Regions from separate parts of the Homo sapiens genome. Here all the other regions are linked to region 3. The links come from fine-mapping of genetic effects on gene expression. A gene starts in region 3. Each other region holds a variant in brackets. All regions are shown on one strand. Distances are from middle to middle.

Region 1 (2,742 bases), 43 kb after region 3:
GGTCAGGTGGCTGTGTAGATGTGTTTGAAGATGGGCTGGTTTTGAGGCAGGATTTCAGAGGATGTGATTACTGGTAGTCAGAAGAAGCAATTTCATCAACCATCAAGGTACGCGCACAGAGCAATGTAGCAAGAACACCCAAGGGGCCAGGCGCGGTGGCTTATGCTTATAATCCCAGCACTTTGGGAGGCTGAGGCGGGTGGATCGCTTGAGGTCAGGAGTTCGAGAGCAGCCTGACCAACATGGTGAAACCCTGTCTCTACTAAAAATACAAAATTAGCTGGGCATGGGGGCACATGCCTGTAATCCCAGCTACTTGGGAGGCTGAGACAGGAGAATCGCTTGAACCCGGGAGGCGGAGGTTGCAGTGAGCTGAGATTGTGCCATTGCACTCCAGCCTGGGCAACAAGAGTGAAACTCTGTCTCAAACACAAAACAAAACAAAACAAAACAAAACAATACCCAAGGAGTTTATTAAAATATATTTTTGGGCCTGCAAAGTCAGGATTCCTAGAGGTTGGACACCCACATCTTTATTTATTTATAAGAGACAGCGTCTCTTTCTGTCACCCAGGCTGGAGTGCAGTGGCATGATCTCGGCTCACTGCAGCCTCGACCTGGATCCTCCTGCCTCAGTCTTCTAAGTAGCTGGAACCACAGGGATATGGCACCACACCTGGCTAATTTTTGTATTTTTTGTAGAGATGGGGTTTTGCTATGTTGCCCAAGCTGGTGTCAAACTTCTGGCTTCCAGTGATCCTCCCACCTCAGCCTCCCAAAATGCTGGGATTATAGGCACCCAGCCCCAAATCTTTATTTAAAAAATCCCTCTCAATCCCAGCAGTTTGAGAAGCTGAGGTGGGTGGATTGGTTGAACCCAGGAGTTCAAGACCAGCTTGGGCAACATAGGGTGACACAATCTCTACAAAAAATACAAAAATGAGTTGGACATGGTGGCATGTGCCTGTAGCCCCAGCTACTCAGGAGGCTGGGCTGGCAAGATGGCTTGAGTCTGAGAGGTTGAGGCTGTAGTAAGCCCTGATCACACCACTGCACTCCAGCTGGGTAACAGAGACAAGACAAGACCTTGTCTCCAAAACAAAACAAAACAAAACATCCCCCTCAGATAATTGTGATACTCAGAAGTTTGGGAATTAGTACCTGGCCTTTAAAGAGCAAGTGTTTGAAACCCCTTCAAACTCTGAGTCTGCTCCTTCTCTGTGCTTCCTTGGGAAAGTGACTTAACCTCTCTGAGCCTCATTTACCTCATTTGGA[T/G]AATGGGGACAACTCTACCTACCTCTCAGGGTGGCCATGAGGAACACATGTGATAGGCAGAGCATTAGGCTCAGGGTCTGGCACAGAGAATGTTCTCCAAGTTAGAATGTGCTCATTAGCTGCTATAATGATTATTCCGCCAAGAACTTTTGGGATTGTGGGATGAACATGAGAAGCTGAAGGAGTCAAAGGTCAAGAGGGACTTTACTCCTGTCCAGAATTGCTGATGTTAGGAATGGGAGGCTCACTGGGAAGGAAGCCGAGCAGGCTACCTACAGGAACCAGGAAGGAGGGGCCCAGGCCAAGTCCAAGGCAGAGGCTGATCATTTCTGGCCACTGACCTGGCCGCTAGGTCAGGGCCCTGGGCAGATACAACATACAACAAACATAGCAGGGCTCTGTGGTTAAGACCTGAGGCTTAAGGGCTTGGAGAGTGCTGGGTTCAAGTTCCGATTCCTGTTTTAGTAATGCCCGACCTCAGATAAGAGACTCAAGAGGCTCCACTGGGGAGGCAGGCAGCACACTGTGGCTACTCAGCCAGGTTCTGGAATCAGATAGCTTCGCTACTTATCTGCATCCCCCTGAGCCTCAGTTTGCTCCATTTGGAAATGGGGACTCTCAACCACTCTCTGTTGTTGGGGGCAGTCAATGAGATACTGCGGGGCATGGTGACTCAGCTCCCTGTCTGACCCACAGAATTGCATATGTGCTGGTGATTGTGGCCATCAATCCCTTATCTGGTGAAACCTTTGGCTCATAACTGGTTTGGGTGTGTGATTGTTACCTTTCACCTCATTCTCAGGCCCATCCACATGACGTGGAACCTGGAGCTTTCCTCCCAATTCCTCCGAAGAATCAGGGTTGGGGGCCCCAACATCCCTTAGCCCCAACCACAGAGGCACTGGGCCCTTGGCCTGGGCTTCCTCCCTTCCCTCTCTCCCCAAGCGGCCCCTCCTTTTTTTCAAGACAGGGCCTCACTCTATCACCCATGCTAGAGTGCAATGTGTGATCATGGTTCATGGTAGCCTTGACCTCCTGAGCTGGATCGATCCTCCCACTTCAACCTCCTGAGTAGCTGGGTACCACCATGCTTGGCTTTGTTTTTTTTTTTCTTTTTTTTGAGACGGAGTCTTGCACTGTCGCACAGGCTGGAGTGCAGTGGCGCAATTCGGCTCACTGCAAGCCCCGCCTCCCGGGTTCACGCCATTCTCCTGCCTCAGCCTGCCGAGTAGCTGGGACTACAGGCGCCCGCCACCACGCCCGGCTAATTTTTTGTACTTTTAATAGAGACGGGGTTTCACCGTGTTAGCCAGGATGGTGTCGATCTCCTGACCTCATGATCCGCCCACCTCGGCCTCCCAAAGTGCTGGGATTACAGGCGTGAGCCACCGTGCCCGGCCCATGTTTGGCTGTTTTTAAAATTTTTTGTGGAGGATAGGTCTCACTATGTTGCCAAGGTGGTCTCAA
Region 2 (2,790 bases), 25 kb before region 3:
TTTGGGACCAAATGATCTTCTAAGGTCTTCTATGCAAACATATTCTAAGATTCTTCTACTGTACTCTAAGCTCCTTCTGGGCAGAAACTTTTCCTGATTCATCTTTGATTATAGCAGGTAGTGCGGAACTTTGTACTCTATAGGGGTTTGCCAAGAGCTTGCTGAATGAGTAAATGAATGAATGATATCAGTCCCCTGCTCAAAGTCACTTAATGGCTTCCCTTTGCCAACAAGCTAAGGGCCTACCTAGAAGGCATACAGAGCCCTTTACAGCCTCTGATTCCAACCCACCTCAGTGTCCCCTGACCTGGAAACTGCCTCCCAGAGCTGGAATGGAGCACTTGGGAGCATTTGAAGAGCTTCATCCACCTGACAAACATTCACTGAGAACCTATTACACACCAGGGCCAGTGTTGCTGCTGGGAACACAATGATGAACAAAACCTGTCAGTTGGCCGGGTGCGGTGGCACACGCCTGTAATCCCAGCACTTTGGGAGGCTGAGGCGGGCGGATCACGAGGTCAGGAGATCGAGACCATCCTGGCTAACACGGTGAAACCCCGTCTCTACTAAAAATACAAAAAAAAATTAGCCGGGTGTGATGGCGGGCACCTGTAGTCCCAGCTACTCGGGAGGCTGAGGCAGGAGAATGGCGTGAATCCAGGAGGCGGAGCTTGCAGTGAGCCGAGATCGCGTCACTGCACTCCAGCCTGGGTGACAGAGCGAGACTCCGTCTCAAAAACAAAACAAAACAAAAAAACAACAACAAAACAAACCACCACCACGAAAAAAAAAAAAAAACCTGTCGGTAGGCCAGGTATGGTGGCTCACGCTGTAATCCCAGCACTTTGGGAGGCAGAGGTGGGTGGATTACTTGAGGTCAGGAGTTTGAGACCAGCCTGGACATGGCGAAACCCCATCTCTACTAAAAACACAAAATTAGCCAGGTGTGGTGGAGCACACCTGTAATCCCAGCTACTTGGGAGGCTGGGGCAGGAGAATCGCTTGAACCCAGGAAGGGGAGGTTGCAGTGAGCCGAGATTTCGCCACTGCACTCCAGCCTGGGCGACAGAGCCAGGCTCCAACTCAAAACAAAACAAACCCCAAAACCTGTGGGTCTCCTTGCCCTCCTGGGGCTGATGTTCAAGGAGA[C/T]CACATAGAGGGAACCACAGAAGACAGAGCAATCCATGGTATGGAGGGAGAACACGGGGCCTGTGGGAACCAGAGGAGGTCCCCAACTTAGTCCTGGGGTCCGGGAAGGCTTCCCACAGGAAGTCACATGGAAGCCCAAGTCTAAAGGAGGTGTTGGGAGTCTATGCACGGGGCCAGAGACACTCCCTCCCTACTGGAATCTCCCAGGCAGGTGGTCCTCCAGCTTCTCCTGGCACAGCCCAGAGATTGGTGAGCTCTTTGGGTAAACCAGCCCACTCTGTGGATGCCCAGCTATCACTGATAAAGTCCTTCCTTCTAACCCAAGCCTACCCCACTCCATCCTTTAGTTAGTAACAATATTAGCTTAACACCCATAATCTTTCAAATAGTATTTATTGCACGCCCACTTTGCACCTGCCAGGTGCATTACATGCACCCCCTAATTTACTCCTCACAGGGACTCTTTGTGATCCCTTTTTCAGATGAGAGCACCGAGACTCCGAATGGGTGGCTTGCCTGAGCCCCCGTAAGGCCTCAGCCCCAGGCTTTTGTGTCCTCGGGATCCCTGCCCCTTATGCACTGACCTCACTGCCTCCCCTTGGACTAGCCTCACCCAAATGCTTTCCCTTTGGGTCCACACAGAACAGGGGCTTGGGCCCCATTCCCTGTTCCCTCCAGCAGGCCGGCCAGCCCGGGCGTAGGCCTCCGTCCTCTCTGAAGCTCGCAGGGAGACAATGGCAGGGTCGGCTGGGGAGGCGAGGGCGCGGGTGCCCCCCTGCCTGCTGTCCTTTGTCTTCCCGCCTGCTCCCCTCGCGCGCCCCGGGAGGCTGGGAGGCGCCTCTCGCAGGCTTCCTCCTCCCATTCTTGTGCTAATTGGGTGTCAAGCTGAGATCAGTGAGAAAGAAATCCGCCCCGGCTCGGGTTAAACTGCCGCCAAAGACGAGGGCTGAGCCCAGAATATCATTAGGCCGGGAGGAAGCAGGGCCCCCTCCTCGGGGGGAGGGGCCGGCTACGCATTTCAAGCCCCTTTGAAAGTCACTCGGTCACCCCCTCCTTTGCTGCCGCAGCCTCAATGGGCCCCTCGGAGGTATTTAACCTTCTTCCCAGGAACTGAAAGTGATACACCATGCAGTGGCCTGGACAGCCACTTGCCTGTCCCGAGGGCAGCTGGACCTCCGGGAGCGCACGAGGCTGGCCCCTTCCAGCCTCTCCTGGAGGAACAGTTTGCAGATGGGAACACTGAGGTTCAGGGAAGGGGACTTTCCTCCCAGTTCTGCCATTCACAAGCTCTGTGGTATTTGGGAGAGACTTTGCCTCTCTGAGCCTCAGATTCCTCATCTGTGAAATGGGGATAAAAATGTACCTGCTTTGGGCTGGGCGCGGTGGCTCACGCCTGTAATCCCAGCACTTTGGGAGGCCGAGGCGGGTGGATCACTTGAGGTCAGGAGTTCGAGGCCAGACTGACCAGCATGGTGAAACCCCATCTCTACTAAAAATACAAAATTAGCCTGGCGTGGTGGCAGGTGCCTGTAATCCCAGCTACTTGGGAGTCTGAGGCAGGAGAATGGTTTGAACCCGGGAGGTGCAGATTGCAGTGAGCCGAGATTGGGCTACTGCACTCCAGCCTGGGCAACAAGA
Region 3 (2,500 bases):
AGCCACTCGGATGAATCTTTGGGGTCTAGGGCTTAGGGGAAGGCGAATGACTTGACTGTGCTTCAGGGGCTGGGTTGAGCTAGGACTCTTGGGTTCTATTCCTGGAGCTTTGAGGACTCGATCAAGGGGACATCTGATGGGACTGTTTTTCTCCGAGTTTTCCTGTTCTTGGGAGTAGATGAAGGTCACAAATGTGAAATGGCCTGAGAGCCTCCAAGCCAGGAAAAGGGAATGGTCTGGACCACAAGAAGCCCTGGGAGACCATCTCCCCCTCCCCCTCGCGAAAAGCAAAAGCCGGGGGCGGGGGAACTGAACCAGAGTCCTCAACCCCAACGCCAGGGTCCAGGGTCCTCAGATCTCTGGCCTCCCATAGCCCGCCATAGCAGAGGGGCAGGAACCTGTCCTGGAAGGCTGGGGCAAGAAGAGGCCAGAAGAGGGTGACTAGTTCCCTCGGGCCCCTGTCCCGGGTCACGCGTGCCGCCCTCGCCCCTAGACAGCAAGGTAACAGTGCGTCTGTCGGGGAAATAGCGCCGCAGGGCGCGCCCCCCACCTGGGGTCCGCACCGCCACCTCGCCCGACTCGGCCTGGCACATGTCCCCACCCGGGAACCCACCAGCCCGGTCTATGCTCACCCGGCGTCGGCTCCGCCGCGCGGCGCCCCGTCCAGATGCGGCCCGGTTGCAGCAGCGTAGACAGCGTGAGGGGCATTAGCCGCCCCTGGACGCACGGAGCCGGGTCTCAGCAGGGTTTAGCCGGCTCTGCGCCCTGCATGGCCCGGCCGCCCCGCCAGCCCCGCCCGCCGCCCGGCCCCGCCCGCCGCGCTCCTACCCCGCCCGCCTCCCGCACCCCAAACCTGCTGTGCCAGGCCGCAGCACCGCCTGCCGCACCTTCCCCGAAGCCGGCAAGCCACAGAGCCGGCGGCGCAGCGCAGCCCCAGCGCGCCTGACGCCGCTCGGCCCCAGCCCGCCCTGCTCGCGCAACGGCTTCGGGCGGCGCCGCCGCGCGGCACGCTGGGAGTTGTAGTCCACGCCGCGCGGCCCCACCCAGCCGAGGAGACCCCCGAGTCCGCGAGGAGACAGGCGGGCTTCACCCCGGCCCTTCCTCCCTGCCGACCCCGGCCCTTGCCCCCTGCTGTCCCCAGCGCCCGGATGTAGGAAGAGCACCCCAGTCCACACCACAGCCGAAAACCCGGAGCACGCTCTCGGGCCCCGGCCGAGTTCAGCAAACACCCAGCACCACACCTAGAAGCTCGCTAAGAGGGCGGTTTCAGGCAGAGGTGAGCGGGGCGGCCGGGTTCCGCAGCCGGCTCTGTGGCGCAATGGATAGCGCATTGGACTTCTAGCTGAGCCTAGTGTGGTCATTCAAAGGTTGTGGGTTCGAGTCCCACCAGAGTCGAATTTTGATGGCTCCTACTCCCTGACTTTCACCTGCGTGTTTTAAGGACTCCAGGACCTATCTAACAAATAAGGTTCAGAACGAAAATCATAAGTCACACCCAACTTTGCTGCGACACAGCCATAAACCTGGTGTCTAGGTGACTACGAGAAATCCTTTCTCGTACCATGGTGTCTTGTGAGCAGCCTGGCACACCTGTTGGCACAAAGGACACGGATTTGGAGGCCCTTAGTTAACTTCACCATCTATGATCTCTGGTCCCTGCAACAAATCAGTTAACCTATATTTGTCATGCCACCCTTATTTGTCATGCCACCTCCAGAGCCATAGGCGAGTGGCCAGATTCTCGGCCCTGTTGGGACTCTTGGCCTCTGAAAAATTGGTTTCTTGTTAAGTAACCATGTTGGGCATCCACAGTTGCCACTTGTCCTTAAACATTAATAGATCCCTGGGAGGCTGAGGCAGGAGAATTGCTTGAACCTGGGAGGCGGAAGTCGCAGTAAGCCGAGGTTGCGCCACTGCACTCCAGCCTGGGCGACAGAGCAAGTCTCCATCTCAAAAAAAAAAAAAAAAAAAAAAAAAAAAAAGATTCTGGGACTGGCGTGGTGGCTCAAGCTTGTAATCCCAGCACTTTTGGAGGCTGAGGCAGGAGGATCACTTCAGCCAGGAGTTCAAGACCAGCCTGGGCAACATAGTGAGACTCTGCCTCTACAGGAAAAAAAAAAAAATTAGCCAGGTAGCTCTTGCTTGTACTCCCAGCTACTCAGGAAGATGAGGTGGGAGGATTGCTTGAGCTCTGGAACTTGGGGCTGCAGTGAGCTGTGATTGCACCACTAAACTCCACCCTGGGCAACAAAGTAAGACCGTGTCTCAAAAAATAAAAATAAGCTGGGCACAGTGGCTCATGCCTGTAATCCCAGCACTTTGGGAGGTTGAGGTGGGCAGATCACATGACGTCAGGAGTTCGAGACCAGTCTGGCCAACAGGGCGAAACCCTGTCTCTATTAAAAATACAAAACTTAGCCGAGCGTGGTGGTGCACGTCTGTAATCCTAGCTACTCAGGAGCTGAGGCAAGAGAATCACTGAACCCGGGAGGCAAAGGTT

The links. PIP is the estimated chance that this variant, and not a neighbour inherited with it, causes the effect. A credible set is the group of variants that fine-mapping cannot tell apart.
Region 1: its variant is the best candidate, but not a certain one, in a credible set for the expression of SLC27A4 in tibial artery (GTEx, PIP 0.65).
Region 2: its variant is the best candidate, but not a certain one, in a credible set for the expression of SLC27A4 in whole blood (TOPMed, PIP 0.73).

The regions. Positions count from the first base shown.
Region 1 is chr9:128,296,085-128,298,826 of GRCh38, reverse strand. No RefSeq gene overlaps it. Among named protein-coding and RNA genes, the nearest start is that of SWI5, 21 kb to the right of the region's middle. The variant T/G (reference allele first, on the strand shown) is at 1,276.
Region 2 is chr9:128,364,320-128,367,109 of GRCh38, reverse strand. No RefSeq gene overlaps it. Among named protein-coding and RNA genes, the nearest start is that of URM1, 5.7 kb to the left of the region's middle. RefSeq lists a silencer at 1,878-1,947 and enhancers at 1,289-2,180, 2,181-2,790. The variant C/T (reference allele first, on the strand shown) is at 1,153.
Region 3 is chr9:128,338,971-128,341,470 of GRCh38, reverse strand. SLC27A4 (solute carrier family 27 member 4) reads right to left here and starts at 944. Exons shown (of 13, transcript NM_005094.4): 1 at 633-944. TRR-TCT3-1 (tRNA-Arg (anticodon TCT) 3-1) reads left to right here and starts at 1,305; the gene lies at 1,305-1,395. RefSeq lists silencers at 418-817, 888-1,297, 926-1,567.